Linked DNA regions of Homo sapiens. The protein of the gene in region 3 interacts with the protein of the main gene of each other region in a pairwise test. Each region holds a gene or a part of one and is shown on either strand. Other genes may lie near its edges.

Evidence for each region. The genes of interacting proteins can lie anywhere in the genome.
Region 1: the proteins of SCARA5 (region 3) and TMEM208 interact in binary tests that used the Homo sapiens proteins (3 or more experiments, as listed by UniProt).
Region 2: the proteins of SCARA5 (region 3) and SLC35B4 interact in binary tests that used the Homo sapiens proteins (3 or more experiments, as listed by UniProt).

The regions. Positions count from the first base shown.
Region 1 is NC_000016.10:67,221,467-67,229,778, forward strand, and holds TMEM208 (transmembrane protein 208), read left to right. Parts: upstream 1-5,663; 5' UTR 5,664-5,752; coding exon 5,753-5,758; intron 5,759-6,252; exon of another isoform or gene 6,253-6,369; coding exon 6,370-6,465; intron 6,466-6,888; coding exon 6,889-6,948; intron 6,949-7,028; coding exon 7,029-7,165; exon of another isoform or gene 7,166-7,191; intron 7,192-7,330; coding exon 7,331-7,415; intron 7,416-7,509; coding exon 7,510-7,647; 3' UTR 7,648-7,812; downstream 7,813-8,312. Other genes in the region: FHOD1 (FH1/FH2 domain-containing protein 1), read right to left, coding at 8,170-8,252. UniProt on the Homo sapiens protein: May function as a negative regulator of endoplasmic reticulum-stress induced autophagy.
Region 2 is NC_000007.14:134,288,832-134,293,706, reverse strand, and holds the end of SLC35B4 (nucleotide sugar transporter SLC35B4), read left to right. Parts: 3' UTR 1-4,375; downstream 4,376-4,875. UniProt on the Homo sapiens protein: Antiporter that transports nucleotide sugars across the endoplasmic reticulum (ER) membrane in exchange for another nucleotide sugar.
Region 3 is NC_000008.11:27,988,796-27,997,282, forward strand, and holds the start of SCARA5 (scavenger receptor class A member 5), read right to left. Parts: upstream 3,879-8,487; 5' UTR 3,462-3,878; intron 1-3,461. UniProt on the Homo sapiens protein: Ferritin receptor that mediates non-transferrin-dependent delivery of iron. Mediates cellular uptake of ferritin-bound iron by stimulating ferritin endocytosis from the cell surface with consequent iron delivery within the cell.

The sequences.
Region 1 (8,312 bases), on a different chromosome or scaffold from region 3:
AAAAAAAATTAGCTGGGCGCGGTGGCGGGCGCCTGTAGTCCCAGCTACTCGGGAGGCTGAGGCAGGAGAATGGCGTGAACCTGGGAGGCGGAGCTTGCAGTGAGCCAAGATCTCGCCACTGCACTCCAACCTGGGCGACAGAGCGAGACTCCGTCTCAAAACAAACAAACAAACAAAAAACATATATATATATAAATTAGCCAGGCATGGTGACATGCATCTGTAGTCCCAGCTACTCAGGAGGCTGAGGTGGGAGGATCACCTGAGCCTGGCGAGGTCGAGGCTGCAGTGACCTGTGATTGCACCACTGCACTCTAGCCCAGGCAACAGAGCAAGACTCTGTCTCAAAAACAAACAAATGAAATTTTTAAAAAATTAAATCAAATTAAAATTTTAAAGAGAGGCCAGGTTTGGTGACTCACACGTGAAATCCCAGCACTTTGGGAGGCCGAGGTGGGTGGATCATGAGGTCAAGAGATCCAGACCATCCTGGCCAACATGGTGAAACCCCATCTCTACTAAAAATATAAAAATTAGCTGGGCGTGGTGGTGCATGCATAGTCCCAGCTACTCGGGAGGCTGAGGCAGGAGAATTGCCTGAACCCGGGAGGTGGAGGTTGCAGTGAGCTGAGATCATGCCACTGTACTCCAGCCTGGTGATGGAGCGAGACTCCGTCTCAAAAAAATAAATAAATAGAAATAAAAAAAGAAGCGCGGCACAGTGGCTCACGCCTGTAATCCCAGCACTTTGGGAGGCCAAGTGGGTGCAGATCACTTGAGGTCAGGAGTTCGAGACCAGCCTGGCCAACATGGCGACACCCCATCTCTACTAAAAATACAAAAATTAGTCAAGTGTGGTGGCACACACCTGCAATTCTGGCTACTTGAGAGGCTGAGGCAGGAGAATTGCTGAGGCGGAGGTTGCAGTGAGCCGAGATTGCGCCATTGCACTCCAGCCTGGGTGACAGAGCAAGACTCCATCTAAAAAAAAAAAAAAAAAATTAGCTGGGCATGGTGGCGTGTGTCTGTAATCCCAGCTACTTGGGAGGCTGAGGCAGGAGAACTGCTTGAACCCAGGAGGCAGAGCTTGCAGTGAGCCGAGATAGCGCCACTGCACTCTAGCCTGGGCGACAGAGCAAGACTCTTATCTCAAAAAAAAAAAAAAAAAAAAAAAGAAAAAGAAAAAGTCCATACAAATGGAATAGAAAAATACTAAGACCTTAATAGTTAAATGGATACAGAACATGAATAAACAAAAGGGGGAAATATGAAGGGTGAACTAATGAGAAAAACAGTGCAACCTCACTAATAAACAAATCAAAATTAAAACAATGAGCCATCACTGCCTGCCTTTCAAACTAGCCCAGATGTCTGCATTCACCTCCTGGCTGGCCTCCTCCCTATGCTGTCTCACTCTCCCAGTCCACTCTGCACTGCAGAGTTCTAATACAAATCACGCTGTGTCACTTGCCTGCCTAATGGGCTCCTTGATGGTCACCAGGAGAAAGCCAAACTCTGCTGCCTGGCACATCTGCCAGCTTGCAGCCTGATGCCATTCTAGCCTCGCCTCCTGCCATGTCTCACTTAGTTCCAGCCAAATGGAACTTGTGTGATTGGTTCCACACCATGGTGCCTTCACTTATGCTATTACTGATCCCAGAAGCCCAACCTTTCTTCTCATCCTGTTCCTTCAGGAAGCCTTCCCTGACACCACCAGTCTCCTCTGGATGTCCTTCTTCATGTTCCGTCAAACTCTTTTTTTTTGAGACAGAGTCTCGCTCTGTTGCCCAGGCTGGGGTGCAGTGGCGCGATCTCGGCTCACTGCCATCTCTGCCTCCCGGGTTCAAGCGATTCTCCTGCCTCAGCCTCCAAGTAGCTGGAACTACAGGTGCACACCACGCCACCACACCCAGCTAATTTTTGTAATTTTAGTAGAGACAGGGTTTCACCATATTGGTCAGGCTGGTCTCGAGCTCCTGACCTCAGGTGATCTACCCGCCTTGGCCTCCCAAAGTGCTGGGATTACAGGCGTGAGCCACTGCGCCCGGCTGTCCCCGTCGAACTCTTTCTTCCCAGTGTCACAGCGCTGAGCACACGATAGCATGATCATTCATATTACTCGTCTTTCTCCTTCACTGGAATGTGAGCTCCTTAGGGAACTATGTCTTATTTATCTGTATAGCCCCAGCACTGTACCCAGAGCCAAGTATGTATGAATGTATGTATATATGTGTATGTATGAGCATATGAATGGATGGATGGATGGATGGATAGATGGATGGAGATACATGAGCAGGGCCACGAGTAAGCTGAAGTAAGAAACACCTGAGGATGGGACGGGGGAGGGTGGGTGCCTTACCTCCCGAAGGGCATTCTGGGCAGCACGGTACCAAGCCCAACTCACGAGGGAGGCCTCTTTCTGATCTGACAGAGGCAGGAAGCTCAGAATATATGTGAGCATCTGAGGGAAAAAGACAGGGCATTGGGGACTGTTAGAGGTGGGAGGTCTTTGGAACCCACTCCAGCTGACAGCACCATGGGTCTGAGGGCACCAGAGCCCTGGCTTCTACTTTATCTTGGATGTGAAGCTTCACGAAGCATTCACTTCCCCGCTCCAGGCTTCAGGTATCTTTCCTGTAAACAAACCTTTCCTGAGCTGGGTGCAGGCTTGCACTGACTGATAAGAATCAAACTTCCTGCCTAGCTGGGTAGAAAAAGCCTGGGCATTGAGGCCAGATAAACCTAGTTCAAATCTCTACTCTGCCAACTGACCTCTCGAACTTTGTTTTCCTTATCTGTGAAATTGCAATTGTAGTGAGATTTAAATGGATTATTGTGAGAATTAAAGAACACAGCCAAGTGTCTTGCATAGGACCTAGAGCACAGCAGGCCAGGTGTGCTCACTCTGGTCCTCAGGAAGTCATGCTTGGTCCTCCTGCCCTCATGGCTCAGGCTCTGGGACCCTGCTGTTTTTCTGTCTTCTTCACTGCCACCTTGCCCTCTCCACTGGTTGTTAAGATGCGCTCCCAGCAAGACCTAGCCTGGGAGGCTCAGGCCCTTCCCCCCACCTAGGGGGTGGTGAGGTTAGAGGTCCTAAATGGGACTGGGGAAGGGGTTACCAGTGAGGCCTAGAATGATTTGATATTAACTCTTCTTTTCTTCTGGAATCTTCCTCCCTGCATCCCAATTGTCTCGTTTTTGGATTCTTCTGTGGCTCCCAGGGCTCAGACCTGGGTCTTTTGGTTTTCTGTTTACCAACACAGGAATAACCAACAATTCAATATTCCCATATTGTCCTATTATCCAAGTGCTAGTCCATATTGCCAACTGTCCATGCAAATGTTTAGCCATCACTTTAATCTCAACCAAAACTCATGTTCTACCCTCAGCCCAAAACAGCCTCTCCTCCCAAATTCCCCTTTCAATGCCAACAGTGCATCTACCTGATAACACTTTCAACTATTCAAACCATTCTGTCCCTTCCTCCCAGATACAGGTGTAATGCACAGGCTTTAGGCCAGGCTAACCTAAACTCATTCAAATTCCAGCTCCACTACTTCCACATATACTGATGTGTGACCTTAAACAAGGTACTTGACCTCTGGGAGTTTCAGTTTCCATATCTATAAAATAGGGATACTTTAAAAAAATCTAGATCATAGCCTCATGGGGATTAAATTTTACATATATATAGTGTGTGTGTGACAACTAGATGTTCCATAAATGGTTGCTGGATTGCTGTTACTAAAATTTCTACCTCTGCAACTTCCCCACCTCAGTAGCTCAGATTTCTACCACCCCAAACCTGGATTCCTTCCACAATCTCCCACCTGAACTCTTTGCCTCCAAGTTCATCCTTGCTAATACATTATGCACACTGTCACAAGGTTAATTTTTCCTATAAAACAGTTTTCAGTTTCAGCTCACCCCTGCTGTAAAACTTCAGGGTTCACAGTACTCTCAGGACAGTCTCCACTCCTGGATCAGCACTGCCAGGCCTCTGTGCCTGATTGGACTCGCTGGTCCCCAAACTTCCCCAGTCCAGTCTCCCCATTGCCCTACGCACACAGCATGTCTATTTCCTTTTGCCTATGCGGGCCTTTTCCCTGGGATCCCCTTCTTGAAGCTTAACTTCACCAACCCATTGTGATCTCTCCTTCCTTTCTCAGATGCCAAGCACGCAGGCACAGTGCTCAGCCAGTGCTTACTGGATTAAATTAAGGTTGGACAGTCCAGTCCTCTACCTCTATTTTCACCAAGAGTATGCTCAGGGAAGGGGTCGGGGAAATAAAGCAGTCATTACTGAGAGGACAATGACTGGCAGAATAGACTTCTGGGCCAGGAAGGGAGGCATAGGGAAGACAGTATTGATGGGGACTGGGACTGACCAAGTCCCAATCCCTCCAGGGAGGCACGGAAGCCTGTTTGAGCTGAGTTAAGACAGTGGCCATCCTGTCTTCTGGGGCTAAGCAGCCAGCCCAAGAGCAAAGGGAGAGGGGAACAAACCTGTCATCCCTTGGGGTGAGTCGGGAAGGGACACAATTCATTGACCTAAGAAGAGGGTGGCCTTTCTAGAGGGACAAGAGGAGGCAGTGATGAGGATGGAGTGACCATCCCATGAGTCCCATCTCAAGGGGGCTACTGGAGATAATGATTGGTCACTCATGGGGTCTATGGGGATGGAAATAGATAGCCCCTAAAGCTAAGGGGGAAAGGGATAGCACTGCAAGCTCAATAGGGGTGGGAACAGGCCTATTTTTGCTAAGGACAGGAGCATCATTCCAGGACCGATGGGAAAGGGTGGCCTGTTTCCCATGGGCAGAGAGAGGGGGCTGCCAACCCTCAGGACAAAAGAGATGGAGAAGCCATTCCAACAGGCCACTGAAGACAAAACCTGTTATCTCCCTGGCAGATGGGGCAGAGTGGTCTTGCCCCTGGCTAAGGGGAAGGAGCAAACATCCCACGGAGTGAAAGAGGTAAGGGCGGCCATCACTAGGGGCCTAGGAATGGGGAACAGGCCTATCCTTGTTAAAGGAACTCAGAGATCATTGCAGTTGATGGGGAGGGAGCAGTCTGTTTCCCACTGCCAGGGAGAAGGGGCGGCCGTCTCTGTAGGAAATGGAGAGATCATCCCAAGGGACCAATGGGGATAAGATCAGTTACCCTTCGGGACGATGAGATGGAGCGGACATCTTCCAGAACTGAGCGGGGAGGAGACAGCCACTTCAAGGGAAGGGGATGGGCAGAGGGCCTGTTCTCGCGGAGATGACAGGGCAGCTATCTTCTGGGGCCGATAGGGAAGGGGAGGACGGTCCCCCAAGCTAAAGGGACAGAGTGGCCCAAAGGAGGAACCGTTACCCAGAGCTAGAAGGTCCCGGGATCGGGAGGGCGGGTCGTTTCCGCCAGGCTGGAGGGGCCGGGCTAGCTATCTGACAGCCCCTCCCCAAAGCTCAGGACCGCGAGGGCGGGGCCTGTCCAGAGCTAGGCCTGAGGGCGGCTTCCTCTCACCTCCAGGGGCAGCGACTCCGCCATCGCATCCCTGCCGCCTCCGCCCCCACTGCGCAAGGCTTTCTGGGAAATGTAGTCTCGCCTCTTTGGGGCGGGGCTTGGGAAGGAAGTGAGACCTATTTCCGTCGCAAAAGCTGACGACTTCGGTCTGCGCCGGAAGTGCATGAGCTGCCGATGTGGTGCTTAGTGATTGCGGTTTCGGTCGCTCTCCCGTGTTTCCCGGGCTGGGTATTTGCCTCGCACCATGGCGGTAAGGAGGATGGATAGGGCGGGGTCCGCACCAGCAAAGCTCTCCAGGGGCTGTGAGAGTGAAAACTGAGAAAGAACATTAAGGGATATGGGGTGGGCCAGAGCGGGGCGCCATCCCTGGCCAGACCGTGCTAGAGCTGGGCTGGGGGGATGGCGGCGCAGGACCATACCAGGACTAGTGCCAGAGCGGGGTGGGCATCAGTACCAGGGCAGGCCAGAGATCTAAGTGACCTGAGGTGGGGGTTAACCCAGATCGGGACTACGCCAGCGGAGGCCTGAGAGAGGCACCATTCAACTCCGCTCAGGAGTACCCTTGGAAGAGTCGTTAGCCTAAAGCCAGACTACCACGGGATCCAGAGGCGGTATTAGCTTAGGATTGAATTGTTCCAGGGCGAGCAAGAGGCGATTGATCCTAGCTGCGGGTGCTGGAGAGATGGCGTCAGCCCTAGGCAGAATGGACTGGAGGATGGGTGGACATCCCAGGGATTTTGCTAGGTTTCTGCACTACGGGGACCTGGCTGAGTTGCGGATGGAGCTCTATAGCTCACCAGGCTGGTGGGGAGAATGAGGAGGACCGTGGCCTCCTGACGGCATCTCATCATTCCTCTGCAGCCCAAGGGCAAAGTGGGCACGAGAGGGAAGAAGCAGATATTTGAAGAGAACAGAGAGACTCTGAAGTTCTACCTGCGGATCATACTGGGGGCCAATGTAAGTGCCTACCTCCTTGCTTCTATGCCCACTTATAGTCAGTTCCCTAGTCCTCAGCCCTGCTTGGTGACGAGGAGTGGTACCCGAAAAAGCTCTAGAAGAGAGCTCCAGTCAAAAAGAAATGAGAGATCTGGGCACAGAGAAAGTGCTAACTAGTAAAACACAAAGAAAATGAAGGCGTGAGTCGTAGCTGAATTTGAGAGCTCTTCCTACCTCCAAGTACACAAAGGCTTCTTTCCTGGGCTGAGTTGGGTGTCAGAGGAGAGTGGGTATTTGGGATTCAGGGAGCAGGGCCCTTTCTTCAACCCTGTAAGAACAACCTTGCTCCTCCCACAGCCTGGCCTAATTCTTGGTCAGAGTTGAGGGAGACCCATGGTTTGGAGGTAACTTCTGACCCCAACCTGATCCTGTGATTGCTTGCAGGCCATTTACTGCCTTGTGACGTTGGTCTTCTTTTACTCATCTGCCTCATTTTGGGCCTGGGTAAGTATCTCCATCCTGGGAGGTGGATGAGTGCGTAGGGTCAGTGGCTGGCCTTTGATACCCTCATTCTTGCTCTGCAGTTGGCCCTGGGCTTTAGTCTGGCAGTGTATGGGGCCAGCTACCACTCTATGAGCTCGATGGCACGAGCAGCGTTCTCTGAGGATGGGGCCCTGATGGATGGTGGCATGGACCTCAACATGGAGCAGGGCATGGCAGAGTGAGTGTCCCCCACCGCCAGCCCAGGTGAGCGGCCCCAGGGCTGGGGCCCAGATAGCCCAAGAAGCACAGCTACTTGTAACTTGAAAAGGGTGGAAGGGAGTTGCAACTTGAAAAGGGTGGAAGGGCCCATATGCTGTCTTTCCAGCTTTATTTCTATCCACAGGCACCTTAAGGATGTGATCCTACTGACAGCCATCGTGCAGGTGCTCAGCTGCTTCTCTCTCTATGTCTGGTCCTTCTGGCTTCTGGTATGTGGGCTGGGGGCGCTCCCAAGAAGGGGCATCTAACCCTCCCCATCTTTTATTCCCTGCATCTTGCTTCAAGTTACCGTTTCTCTTGTAGGCTCCAGGCCGGGCCCTTTACCTCCTGTGGGTGAATGTGCTGGGCCCCTGGTTCACTGCAGACAGTGGCACCCCAGCACCAGAGCACAATGAGAAACGGCAGCGCCGACAGGAGCGGCGGCAGATGAAGCGGTTATAGCCATTGACATTGTGGCCACAGGCCACTGGCCCTGGGTGGCTCTGTCAGGGTGCACAGCCCCTCATGCCTGGAGCAATGAGGGTCTAGTCCAGGGGCCAAAAGCAGTCTGAGGTATTGGGTATACTTATACTCTATAGGGTCGTTGAATAAATGGCTTAGAATGTGGCTGATGGCTGTGTGGGTGATGAGGGATGAGGCAGGAAAAGCTGGTCCTATGGGATTTCCCTCCTGCTACAAACCCAGCCTGGTGGGGACCCTGAAAGAAGAGAAACCTGTTGGATTAGCTAAGAAAATTTTATTTTGCTCCGTGCGTTCAAGGAGCTCACACACATGCACATGCATATGCATGCACACACACACATACACACACACTCACATGCATACACACACGGCTAATACTGCTCAAGGCATGGCTCCTGGGCACAGAGTTCTGGGGCCAGAATTCTGCTCTGGGCCCTCCTCACTCTGTCATCTCCTGCACTGCAGTCCAGGGTCCAGATAGATTTCCGGGATACAGCACCTTCACACCTCCAGGCCAGGACCCTTGCTTAGTCCCAGTGCCTGCACCAGGTCATCTCCGAGCCCACTCTTCAACGTCCTTCTCACTGCAGGGACAGAGCAGGGTTGGAGGGGGTTGATGGGGTTCAGGTGGGCAGTGGGATTGT
Region 2 (4,875 bases), on a different chromosome or scaffold from region 3:
GAGCCATGGCTGTCCCTGTTGGCCCAGCCGGGCACTCACAGGGCAGAAGGGTGGGTCTCAAGTGGGAGGATAAGGCTTCACCACCAGGAGATTCCCCTCTGCCCGATGACTCTGTTAAGAGTCACGACCCATCAAGGGAATGCATAGATGGAGATATATAGTGTGTGATGTGTAAATCAGGTCAAACCTCAACGACAATTGAAAGTTGTTATTGTCCTATGAGGTATCTTAGCATTCTCGATGGGTATTGAGGATGGTTGGATGTGCTTTATTGTGTGTGGAAACATGCCTCTCTTTGCTAATCATTTCAGAGGTCCAGTTTTCCTTTCACTGGACAATCTTGAATAGGAGGAACGCTGTTGCTGTAATATGCGTAGCTTCTGTGTGCTCTTGTGTAGTCTGTGTGTGATCAAAGGGCACGGAAGTGGCTGCACTTTCACATCCCTTTTCTTTACTTAGCTGGAACCTTACATACCAGTACATGCTCCTCTGTAAGCAGCTGAACTCACCGGCCACTTCTCTGTTTGCCTATAGACAAAGACTGTGTGTGTGTGTGTGTATGTATGTGTGTGTGTGTGGTGCACACATTGTGTTCTTAAACTGAGACGTGGCTCTGCAGGTCTCCTGGGCTCATTCCATGGTGTGGTATGTTTATTCCACTGTCCAGAGCTATTCTCTGATGGATTTGAGCAACAGCAGTGGAGATAAATGTCCTAGAGTCACCAGGTCGCTTGGAGAAGTCATTTAAGCTGCCTCGGGTTTTTGTTACTTAAAATGTGGATATTATTTCTCCACCTAAATCACTGAGTTTACAGAGTAATAATGTGTTGCTCTGGACATTGACAGCTTTCTAGAGCCAGTAATGGGCTCTTCTGAAGGATGCTGAATTAGAAGTGAACCTATTCATAGGATCAAAAGCCACTTGCTTTGAAATATGTAGAGTTCCTCAGAATTGACGGTGCTAGAAATATCCAAGTGTTAAATAACCTTTTAAAAGCAACAAAAGCTACTTTTTTCTTACCACTTAATAGAAGAACCTGTCCCTAGAGGCGACTTCATTGCTATGGATCTGGAGTCTCTGAACTCTTAATAGGATGCAGCCTCACATACATAATGTCACCCATTTTATGTTGATGAAAACATTACAAGTTTTCTTCATTGGGTATGTGTTGATGTTCACAGACAGTACTTGGGCCCATTAGGTTTTCGCGTCTGGTCTTAGAGCATGTGTATTCATCTCAGCGTGAATACCTCAGCCAGTCTTATGAATAGGAGGCTATGTATGGGCAGGGAATAGATTAGATTAGAACACTCGCACAAGATGACCACATATAGAAGCAGAAAGCCCCAAATTCCCTGGGAACTGTTTTTTCTCTAGTAGCTGAATATAAGGAAATATGTCTAATGGACACCAGTTAATACTTTTTAAAACTACTCTTTAAAAAAAAAATACGTTCCCCTTGGTTAACTGATTTTTTAATCCAGGGTGGACATTTTTTCAACCTTTATTAAAAAGACAAATAAACTATTTTGTAGAAGATCAGACTCCTACTTAACTGGAAGAGAAATGTCTATTAAATGTCTCTCCTCTTTCTCTGGGTCAAGACCATGTAATTTTATGCTTCAGAGATGAAGATACTGTTTGTTTACAAAGAGTTTAGTTTTTAAGACATCCAAAACTCTATGCTAGAGCAAAAATCAAATAGCAAAGGACACTAGCCAGAAAATACAGTGTGTGTGTGTGCACCTGTGTGCCTGCTGAACAACTTGACAGTGTAACAGATAAGGTAACTGAAGATGGTGGATATTTGAATTGTATTAGCTTAATGTCTACATATCTTTGGCCAAAACTCTATTGTCATATTAGAAACATGTTATCTTTTTCATGTTTATTAGTAATTTATTTTTGATTCTTTGTTTTCTTTTTCGTCCAACTAAAACAACTGTAATGTACTTGATACATTTATATCAAGTTCTAAAGTATTTAGACAAATCCAAATACTTTGTTTTTAGTTTTTTCCTCCTTTCCATCCTGTTAACCACAGTGAAACGCTGCAGTATTTTGATTTGGTCAGTGCTACGGAGGAAGACCATGAAAGCTGAATTGGTCTGTGCCACCCAGAGTAAACCTCTTCTCTTCTTCTGGAAAGATGGCGTGATGTTTTTCAAGGATTCTAATAAATATCCCGCAGTCATCTCCTGAGCAGCTTTCCTCTGTTTCACTTCAGAACTCCTTCCCCCACTTTCTTCACTCCAGTTTCTTCACTTGCAGCGTTTTCTGCTAAGAAAGACTTATCATCTTGTATCTGTTTATGCCTCTCTTCTTTGGGGCCCCTGGATGTTTTTGTGGATTTTTACAGAGTATTTATATCTGCACAGCGTGTATTTTGTTATACATTCTTACAAGCATTGATATTGGGGGGTACATTCATAATAGTGAGAATATCTGGCAGAATGTGTGAATGCCATATCTGTAGATGACGATGAATGTGAAGGGTTAATGTAGAAATGTTTGTTTATTCTGTTACAGCTCAAAATGGAGGCTGAGAATCTCTACCACCATTCCCTTCTCTATTTGAGAATCTCTACCACCATTCCCTTCTCTATTTGGGAAACAATACTCTCTTATTTTGCTATTTTTACCTTCCCATTAACTGGCTTCACTCAACAGTGCCAGATACCTATGGAGAGGGGAAGTAAAACACCTTAGGTCAGGAATAATAAACCAATGAGTTAGCTCAGGGCCGGTGGACATGTTCACTGGTGGACCAGTTGGCATTGACCTAAACGGACAGAGAAATGCACATGGAGGAGAACTACGTTGAAATCAAGATCCTATGTCTGTTGTATTTTCTCTTTGCCTGGAGTAAATAGCATTATAAGTCATTCCACCCTTATTAGATAACCAAAGCATATTGGTCTCAATAGCTTTCTCCTGAAAAATGTGATTGAATCTTACCTGTAGCAGTTCACTCTTAAGGTTGAAAGAACTGTCAATATAGATAAAATCCATTCCTTATTATTATTGATTGGTGTGACATTTGAAAATGTGTCTAAACAATATTTGTAAGTAAAAGAACCAGTCATAAGCCTCAAATGTGTTCAGTGTGTACCAAGCTGGAATGGGAGACTGGCCCCTCTTGGCTTTAAAGTAGCATGTTGTCTTTTTCTAGCAGCTTCTTCCTAGTAGACATTCCAGGGATGGGAGGGGCCAGGGATCATGTCTTACTCATTTCTGTATCGCCAGCCCCTGGCATAGTGTCTGGCTTATGTTATGTGAATAAATGAATGCTTGCCAAGATCTCTTCTTCCCTCAAGTTTCTGGAAAACCTGAGGGTTCGTGATACCTGTTCCCACTCCTCATCAGCGGGTTGGCAAGAAAGCAAATAAGGGGAAACATTTTTAACATTCCAAGCAAGAGAAGGAAGAACGACTATTGGGAGGAGGTACACCAGAGATTGCTCAGTGTGCAGCCTGCTACCTCACTTTTGGCTCTGGATTGCCTGGTGGTAGAAGGGAAGAGTATTATGTAGTTAGCACCTTACATATTTGATGCTCAGGAAGAAAGTGCAAGAAGATCCCTAATAGAACATTAAAGATTCTTAAAAGTTTTTGAAGTAGGCTGCTTGGGGTGACCAGCCCCACCCTTACATCTCCATAGTTGGTACAGTTAGCTTGTAGCAGCTGAAGCTGATGCCTGGAGATCACTGTCTGTTGGTCTGATCTCAGTATCATACTGAGACACCTCCCCTGAGCCTTACCTACTTAAATTGGTAACCGTCCTACCAAAATTTGTCAATTTTAATCAAGTGAGGCAAGTTGCAAGGGAGCCAGAGATACGTGAAAAAAGAAAAGCAGAAATACTGATACTTTCTAAGAAAGAAGTTGTAATAATTTCTTTGGCACATTGACTTACTGATATCTTTTGAAATGCATAGATGACTCTTGTGAACCAAAGAGAGCAGTAGTGGTTATTCCCCGGCGCAATAAAAATGCCTTTGTGTATCACTTGCGATTGCCAGTCATTTCTGTGCCAGTTGCTTTCATTCCAGAGAATGGCCTCATTCTCCAAAAAAAGATGATGATTTTAGAAGTAGGATTTCCTAACAAATTATGTGGTGGGGAGGGACGGCGGGGATTTTATTCATCCCGTCTGAGCTCTTCATACAGTATTACCATTAGGTTTTAAGAACAAAGATGGGGGAGGAGGGAGTAGAAAGCTGAGAGTACGTAGAACAGCTACAAGACATTAGTGGGTATTCAGATTTTGAGCTGTGTAAATATCAAACATCGGCTTCCAGCCTTAAGAGTTATTTGAGCAGAGAGTTAAGGAGGAATGGGAGATTTTGTGAATAAAATGTTTTGCCAAACTGAATGAGTCTTTTTGCCATTATTTCTTATAGAGAGCTATTTTTTACCTTCTGAAACAACTCATCAGACATCTGGGGTTTATCTTGAATTGTACCATCATTGTTTCTTAATAAAAGTGATAAATTTCTTGCAGGTGTTTCCAATCACCATTACCTTTGAAGTGCCTGTGTGCAGTTTCAAAAGCTCTCCAATTTTTACCTTGTATAGTGGTGGTGGCATATTTTACTACAAACGATTGTCAGCAATCTCTCTTCCTAATGCCTCGCAGCTGGATCAGTAATAAACCACTTCTCAGGCTGGTTTCTGCGCCAGAAATTAGTTTACAGAGGATCAGCCTACTTTTGGAAGTTTTAGAGGTTTGTGGCAGTACATTCTATAGCAAATCTCTCAAAACCTCTTTGCCTTGATAGAAATACACTGACTTTTGTCAGCTGCAGTGACCAGCTCTCTTTGTCTTTGATATGTTGCTTTTAAATAAACCTCAGCTGGAAAGTAACTCTTCAA
Region 3 (8,487 bases):
TCTGGACATTTAACCAAAGAACAGCATCCTTTAGAAGATAAAAGCCCCATGAGGATGGGTCCCAGGCCCAGTATGGAGCAAACTCAACCCTTCAACCCAGAGGAGGCTGGGAGGAGAGGATGCAGGGCTGGCAGGTGGCAGTGGGGGGACAATGCCTGTTGATTGAGAGATCAGTCAATCAGTTTCTCTTCAGAGGGAGGGTGGGCAAGGAGGCGTGGCAACTTTCATAAATAGACATAATCAGGGAAGGCGGCTGGCGGGGTTGCTCTGCAGCAGAGCAAAACAAGAATTCCGTATTTTCTTTCTTCTTTTTTTTTTTCTGTTTCTTTCTTTCTTTTTTTTTTTTTTTTTTTTTTTTGAGACAGGGTCTCACTCTGTTGCCCAGGCTGGATGGCAGTGGTGCAGTCTTGGCTCACTGCAACCTCCGCCTCCCGGGCTCAAGTGATCCTCCCAACTCATCCTCCTGAGTAGCTGGGATTACAGGCACAAGCCACCATGTCCAGCTAATTTTTTGCAGAGATGGGGTTTCACCATGTTGGCCAGGCTGGTCTGGAACTCCTGGAGTCAAGCGCTCCACTGGCCTCAGCCTCCCAAAGTGCTGAGATTACAGGTGTGAGCCACTGCACCCAGCTGAAGCCCCTATTTTCATGACTTGAGCTTGGCCTCCACAGACCTCTGACATTTGGGCTGAGAAGAGACCAGAACTGACCAGTCACTGTATACATGTCCTTCTAATGACCCAGGAGGGCTGGACGCCTCTGCTGTTAGCCCTTCTGTACATCCCCCATAACGGGCACACACACGCATGTGCACACACACAGCCTTGGGGCTCCCAGTATCTGCGGGCCTCTCCTCCAGCCTATGGGAGGGATGGAACAGGGGGTGGTCCTCGGCTCTGCCAGGATCTCTCCTCCCTGCCCCAGACACCACCCACTCTGGCTTCCCTGTGCTGCAGTGGTGTCCAGTTCACTGGGCTCCCAATTCCGGCCCTCCACCCAATGCCTCCACCCAGGCAGGGCCTCTAGGTGGGGCCGCGGGCAGCTCCAGCACTGCTAAGTTGCAAGGGACCCTCCCTCATTTCATGAGCACTGTGTGCGGCAGCCCTCCCTCTGGCTTCACTCCTTGCGGGGCTGTGAAGCAGGAGGCCAATGTCTCTTTTGCCTGCAATAACCCTCCCTCTGCCAAAGGCAATAGCCTCTGCTTCCCAGAGGCCACACAGAGCCAGACAGGGCGCTGCCCCTGGGGAGTGGAGGTGTGAGGCCCCACTGCCATTTCCACCTTCCTCCTCTTCTGGTCAGCTCCTGGGACGGGGCTGGAATGCACGGCTTGTTAGCCAGAATGTGTGTGAAGGGCAGCTGTCTCCTTCCTCCTCCCCACCCCTCAGCTGGTCCAGCAGGAGCCCAGGGGATCTGCTGGGGAGAGGGACTGGGGCCGAGCGGGGCCAGATGTGAGTGCACAGGGCTTGGAAAAGCTCAGACAACTCTACTCATGTTTGTTACTTGGAATTGAAACCTACGCATGTTCTGTCTGCCCAAGGTTTCTTGGGGGCTGTTTTTCTTTCTTGGGGGAGGAAGCAGGCATTGGGACCCTCAGATCATGGATCTTACTGTCTTTGGACCAAGTCTGTGCTCTAGAAGATGAAACTGATGGCAAGTGCTCCTCCCAGGAGCACTGTGTTGGGGGTAGGCTGATGGCATTTGCATTCCGTCCCTCCCATTTTAAACATAAGCCATCCCAGACCAAAGAGGCAAAGGAAGGAATGGATATCAGAGCGGGAAGAGGCCCCGGGCACAGTTTTCCTACACAGGGCACTGGCTCAGCTGCAGGGTTGCTTTGTTTGGGAATTGCATGTCAGCCCCTTTGGTGACCACTTTCTGGGCCCCAGATCAGGCAGAGAAGAGAATCCCACCTCAGACTGCCAGCCAGTGTACTCCAGCAGGTGGGGATCCTGGGACTGAGGCAGGGCTCTGAGAGCTTGAAGCACATGGGCGAGATGTGGAAGCCACAGTGACCTGTGGATGAAGCCCAAGGAGACTGGACCTCAACTTGCAACTCAAAGAGGGAGGTCTTGCTCTAACAGGGAGGTGTCACCCTCTCCACTAACCTCTTGGCAATCATGATTTACTTCCAGACAATTTCACCCAAGGCACTTAGAAGGGCAGGTTCAGAGCCAGGGATCTGCTTCTAGATTCTGCATTTTAGAGCTGGAAAAGCCCTCAGCCATCTGTGCCCTGCAGCCCTGTGCCCTGGGGCCATCTGCGCCCTGCAGGCCTGGCTCTCTGCAGGAATGCAGGGAACACAGAAGCCAAGGGCTCCCATCCTAGCTCCTCTGCGTATTGGTTTCTTGGGGGAACTTGGCTCAATTACCTGACCTCATTCAGCCTCAGGTACATGACCTCTAAGATGGGAAGGTGGGTAGCTGCTGGTCACCCAGGATCACTGTGAGCCTCCCGTGAGATAATGCATGTGGCATGACTTTATGAACAAGGTCACTCAGGGGAGCTGGTGGCAGTCTGATGAGAAAAAGCATCCCCCAGCATCTTCTGACTCTGCCTGGCAGCCAGGTAAGGGGGTGTCCAGGTTCCCAAGGCCTCCCTCCTACCTAGCCAGTCTCAGAAACAAAGCTGTTTGAAGTTCCCTTTGTAAAAGGCAATCGCGAATGCACTCTAGGGCTGATATCAGGACCCTGGCTCTTCAATCCTTCTCTGGAGATCAGAAGGACTCCATTAATTCCTCCTCTGAGTGGGTAGCACGAGCCTCATTTGCTGCTACCAAGTCAGTTTCTCTGGGTACCCGCATCTAACTCTGCAGGGTTTATGGCTTTTCTTTGGATTACCTCACTTTAAACTCATCAAAACCAAGGAAAAAAATCACATGAGTGTGGCCCTTCTCCAAAGAGAGAATCACTAAGGAGGTTTTAAATGTTTTCCTCCTCTAACTGTACTTAGTTAAGCTAAATCATAACCCAAAGCTGGACAGAGACAGATATTTTAGAAATAACCTCTCCCCACATATATCCCACCACTGGCACATGCACACGCACAGACATGCACACACACACACATGCACACACACACACATGCACACACACACATGCACACACACACATGCACACACACGAAGCCATGGAGAGGAGCTGTCACCTGAGCCATCTGCACCCTGAGTAGGCTCTTGAGCTGTGACATGAGTCAGGTGGAGTAGCCACCAAGGCAATAGCTTCCCTCTGGCACCCCAAATGCAGGCTCACATTCTCTCCAGCCCAGGCAGTTGGATGAGGGCCCGGCAGATATCTGCGGGCCCAGCAGGCGGGGACCTTCCCACCTGGAGAAGGCACCTCCAGGCTCTAGGTCTGAAGTTTCCCAAACTCTGTACTCCTCTCCATCCAGTTCACTCCAGTCTCCTCCAGCTGTCTTTGAGACAGCATGCCCAGGAGATAGGACAAAATTAGTACCAAGACTCACCTGAGTGCCCCTGGCTGAGGCTGTAGAGCCTTGTCCCCTCAGATCTCAGCATTTGCCATGGTGGCCAGAGAGCTGGCTGCCACCACGCTGAGAGCCAGGCCGCCCCTCGGACCGCGTCCCCACAGCCAGCCAAATCCAGATGGAGTCATAGAAAGGGGCTGCAGGGGCGCCCAGGGACGAGTCTCAGAGCAGGACCACAGGGGCCACTTCTGCAGGAGGACCAGGTCAAGATGCAACCTGTGGCAGAGTGGGGGTCTGGGCCTGGGGGACCCAGAATGGGGGGTGTGCGCCTGGGACTCCCTGTCCTTGGTGCCTGGTCCTGGGTAGCGATCAGGAGATGTTCTGAGGAGGCACCGGCAGCTCCTCTAGGTACTGCCTGAGATGCGAACTGCAGCTGCTCTCGCCGCCAGTCCGTATAAAATAAAGTTCTTGGAGCAGTTGCGGAGGCTTCTGCAATGGGGTCTGGAATACGGCCCCCCTCCTGCGGCCAATCGTGGCATTACAGCCCCGTGTGGGAACGCCCGCTGGGCCCAGAGCAGCGCGGTCGGCCTTGGCCTTGGGACTCCAACACCCCAGTCTAAAGGTCCTGCTCAAAATACTTTTTGGAAGACTTCTGGGGGAGTGGCAGCTAGACCTGGCTTATGAGCCACGCAAGAAAACCAGTCTTGTAAATTTATTTATAGCACAGAATTGGCATGGCTCAATTCATTCACCAAGCTTGGCACAGAGTTACTTCATGTATTTTCCTGGAGTCACATTCATCCTCAGTGGACACGGATTGGCCACACTGGGGGTAGTCAGGAAAATGCCCCAGGGGGTTCCACGGAACTCAGCAGCAGAATCAGCGTTTCTGGCTCATTAACGCTGCACAGGGGCTGGGGGGTGCAGGATGAAGACTAGCTGGCTGTCCATAGCAATTCAGTATGGGAGGGGGACCCAGGCACGAATAATCCTAAACCTGAGCATGATTGCTTACGTTTGAAAAAGGACATCTAGGCCGGGTGCAGTGACTCACACCTGTGGTCCCAGCACTTTGGGAGGCTGAGGTGGGAGGATTGCTTGAGCCCACCCACAAGTTCAAGACCAGCCTGGGCAACATAGTGAGACCCCATCTCTAAAAAAAAAAAAAATCTCTTTAAAGGCAATCTAACCATATGTGAAGGGAGCTGCTAAATTCAGATTGAGGTGGTAGTATCAGGGGCATCAGAGAAATCACCATAATTGTCCAAGCCAGGGTGGCAGAGTTAGGCTATGCAGATGGCTTCCAGAGGACAGCACCCAGAGGTAACATTCATGAATGCATTCCTGTTTGTTGGTGAAAAGTTCAGCCTCAAGACTCCAGGGTCAGGCTTCGTACATGAAAAGTGTTTGCCAAGACTCAGCTGTGTCACTGCAGCTGCCCGCCCACAGCTGAGTCAGAAACGCCGTCCTCATTCTCAGTGACTGCCCTGCCTGACTGCCTAGGAAGCAGCTCCAACATCAAACTCCATTTTACAGAAAGAACAAATGATAATTGTATCATTATGGTAATAATCCCAGGGAGCGGAGGAGGAGAAGGAAAAGAAGACAACACTTTATAGCATATACCATGTGTTTCTTATATATTAGCTCATTGAACCTATTCAACAACCCCCTGAGGCAGGTGCTGCTATTATGCTCATTTACAGAGACAGAGAGGAAGTGACTTGTCCAGGGTCTTGTAGCCAGTAAGTGGCAGAGCTAGTATTCAACCCTAGGCAATGTGATCCTAGGGTCTATGCTCTTAACCCCTCCCCTGTACCATTGCCTCTCAAGGGGAAACAAATGTTTTTGTCCCCCATCAATTCACCAACATTCCTAGGAATGTAATCTTAAAAACAGCCAGAAATGTGCTCAAAATATGATGTCCAACCAGCCTGGGCAACATGACAAAACCCTGTCTCTACAAAAAAAAAAAAATACAAACAATAGCTGGGCGTGGTGATGCACACCTGTAGTCCCAGGTGCTTGGGAGGCTGAGATGGGAGGATCAACTGAGCCCAGGAGTTTGAGGCTGCAGTGAGCTGTGATCGCACCACTGCACCCCAGACTGGGTAACAGAACAAGATCCTGTCTTAAAAAAAAAAGTGATGTCCAAAGACCTTCCCTAAAGAGATGTGTATGTTAGCAAGAAATGTGGTAGTTAGTGTCCCCCTAAATTCAAGCATTGGAAATGTAATCTTTATTGCAACAGTGTTGGGAGGTGGGGCCTTTGTGGGGGTATTTGAGTCATGAATGTATTTGGGATGCCGTAGAAAGGGCTTGCAGGAGTGGGCTGGCTTGATCCTCTGCCTTTCTGCCATGTGAGGACTCCACGCTCATCCTCGCTTGTCCTCCCACCTCCCGCCCTGTTCGAAGCACTGAGTCCTATTGCGTGATAGGCACATACCACACACAATGTGTATATCGGTCTCCTGCTGAAGGGGGTTTGGGATGTTTCCAATCTTTGTCTATTATGAATAAAGCTGCCGGAACAGGCAAAGGGAGATTTGACAGTGAAGTATAGGAATGACCTGGAGGGCTGGTTTTCTCATGGGTGAGAGTCCTCCCGGCAGCTCTTAGCTCAGATACCTCCTTGCCACTAAAATCAGAATTGTCCCCAAAATGATTTGCTTCCATTCAATCACGGATGGCATTTGTAGTAGGCATTTCCCCCCCAGAAGCTGAATGAAAATGTGATTGCCTTGATAGAGGAGGGTTCAATAGACTTCTGAAGTAGTTTCATCTATGAAATCTCAGTATTTGAAATGGAGGGACCAAGCTTTTTCAGTTTGTTTTTTCTAGAGGTAGGATGTCACTTTATCACCCAGGTCGGAGTACAGTGGCACAATCATAGCTCACTGCAGCCTCGACCTCCCAGGCTCAAGTGATCCTCCCACCTCAACCTCCTGAGTAGCTGGGGCTACAAGCACATGCCACCACACCCAGCTAATTTTTTAAAATCCTTTGTAGAGATGAGGTCTCGCTATCTTGCCCAGGCTGGTCTCAAACTTCTGACCTCGAGCAATCCTCCCGCCTCCACCAGCCAAAGTGCTGGGATTACAGGTGTGAGCCACCATGTCCAGACTCCATTTTTGACTCTGATAAATGGTGCTGCTGTGAACATTCTTGTGTGTGTCTTCTGGGGAACATATGAATGCCATTCTCTTGGGCATATACCTGGGCATGGAATCGCCAGGGCATAGGATGGCCCTGTGTTCAGCTTTGGTAGACACTGCCAAAGAGTTTCCTATGGTGGTTGTACTAGTTTATATCCAGCAGGGGATGAAACTACACTTATTCCTTGTCCTTGTCAGTGTCAGTGATGTTTATTCCATTTTCCCTGCTCTGGTGCATTGTAGAGGTGCCATATTGTGGTTTTAATTTGCATTTTCCTGATGACTCATGAAGTTGAGCACCTTTAATTATGTCATTAAGTCTGATTGTTGACTTGAACTCTGGGCCCGTTACACCAGCAGGTCCTGCCCTATGGCTTGGGGTTGGCTGTTCCATCTGCCTGGAGTGGTTCCACCAGATGTTTGCACAACTAACTTCTTTGCCTCATTCCCATCTTTTCTCAAATGTCACTTTGTTCATGCTGCTGAGCCTAATGATTCCTACCCACAGGCCAGGCATGGTGGCTCACGCCTACAATCCCAGCACTTTGGGAGGCCAAAGCGGGAGGATCACTTAAGGTCAGGAGTTTGAGACCAGCCTGGTCAACATGGTGAAAACCTGTCTCTACCGAAAATACAAAAATTAGCTGGGTGCAGTAGCAGGCACCTGTAGTCCCAGCTACTCGGGAGGCCGAGGTGGGAGGATCACTTGAACCAGGCAGGCCGAAGCTGCAGTGAGCCAGGATTGCACCACTGCACTCCAGCCTGGGTGATAAAGCGAGACCTGATCTCAAATAAATAAATAAATAAAATTGCTACACACCCCTTGCCACTCTTAGTCCCCCTCACCCTGCTTGGTTTTGCTTACTGTCTGCTAGAACAGCAGCTCCAGGAAGGCAGCTCACTTGAGTGCTTCAAAATGCCTAGCAGGGTGCCTGGCGCACAGTACACGCTCCAGAAATATTGGTTGTGTGACAATCTGAGGAAACAGCATCAGGCACAGGGAACAGAAGGCTCAGAGGCCTCAGTATGGAAACACACTGGACATGCCGGAGGGGCAGAGAAAGGCCCAGTGGCCAGAGCACAGAGGATGCAGTGGCCAGAGAGAGGAGGTCAGGGGAGAGGGAAGCCTGGGTCTCACCCTGAGCACAGAGTGGAGCTGAGGCCACGCCCTTCTTTTTTGTCTCTATCTTCTCCCAGGGAACACATCGATCCTGTACTGTTCATATTTTTGCTTCTTTTTTTTTTTTTTTTTACATATTTCTTCATTATAGTTTGCTACTTCTTGTTTAAACTTTTTAAAAAAATTAATTGTGGTAAAACACACATTGCATAAAATTTGCCATCCTAACCCTTATTTATTTGTTTGTTTGTTTGTTTATTTATTTATTTATTTATTTATTTATTGAGACAGAGTCTTACTCTGTGGCCCAGGCTGGAGTGCAGTGGCGTGATCTCAGCTCACTGCAACCTCCACCTCCTGGGCTTAAGCAATTCTCCTGCCTCAGCCTCCCAAGTAGCTGGGATTACAGGGGTGAACCACCACGCCCAGCTAATTTTTGCATTTTTAGTAGAGACGGGGGGTTCGCCATGTTGGCCAGGCTGGTCTCAAACTCAAATGATCCACCCGCCTCAGCTTCCTAAAGTGCTGCGATCACAGGTATGAGTCACCATGCTCAGCCCTAACTGTTTTTAAATACATAGTTCAGTAGTGTTAAGTACATTTGAATTGATGTTCAACCAGTCTCCAGAACTCTTTTCATCTTTCAATACTGAAACTCCACTCATTCAACAACTCCCCGTCCCCTGTCCTCCAGCCCCTGGCACCACTCATTCTCCTTTCTGTCTCTTTGAATTTGACTACCCCAGGGACCTTGCTATTTCTTTATCTGTGGCCTACTCTGCAAAAATAC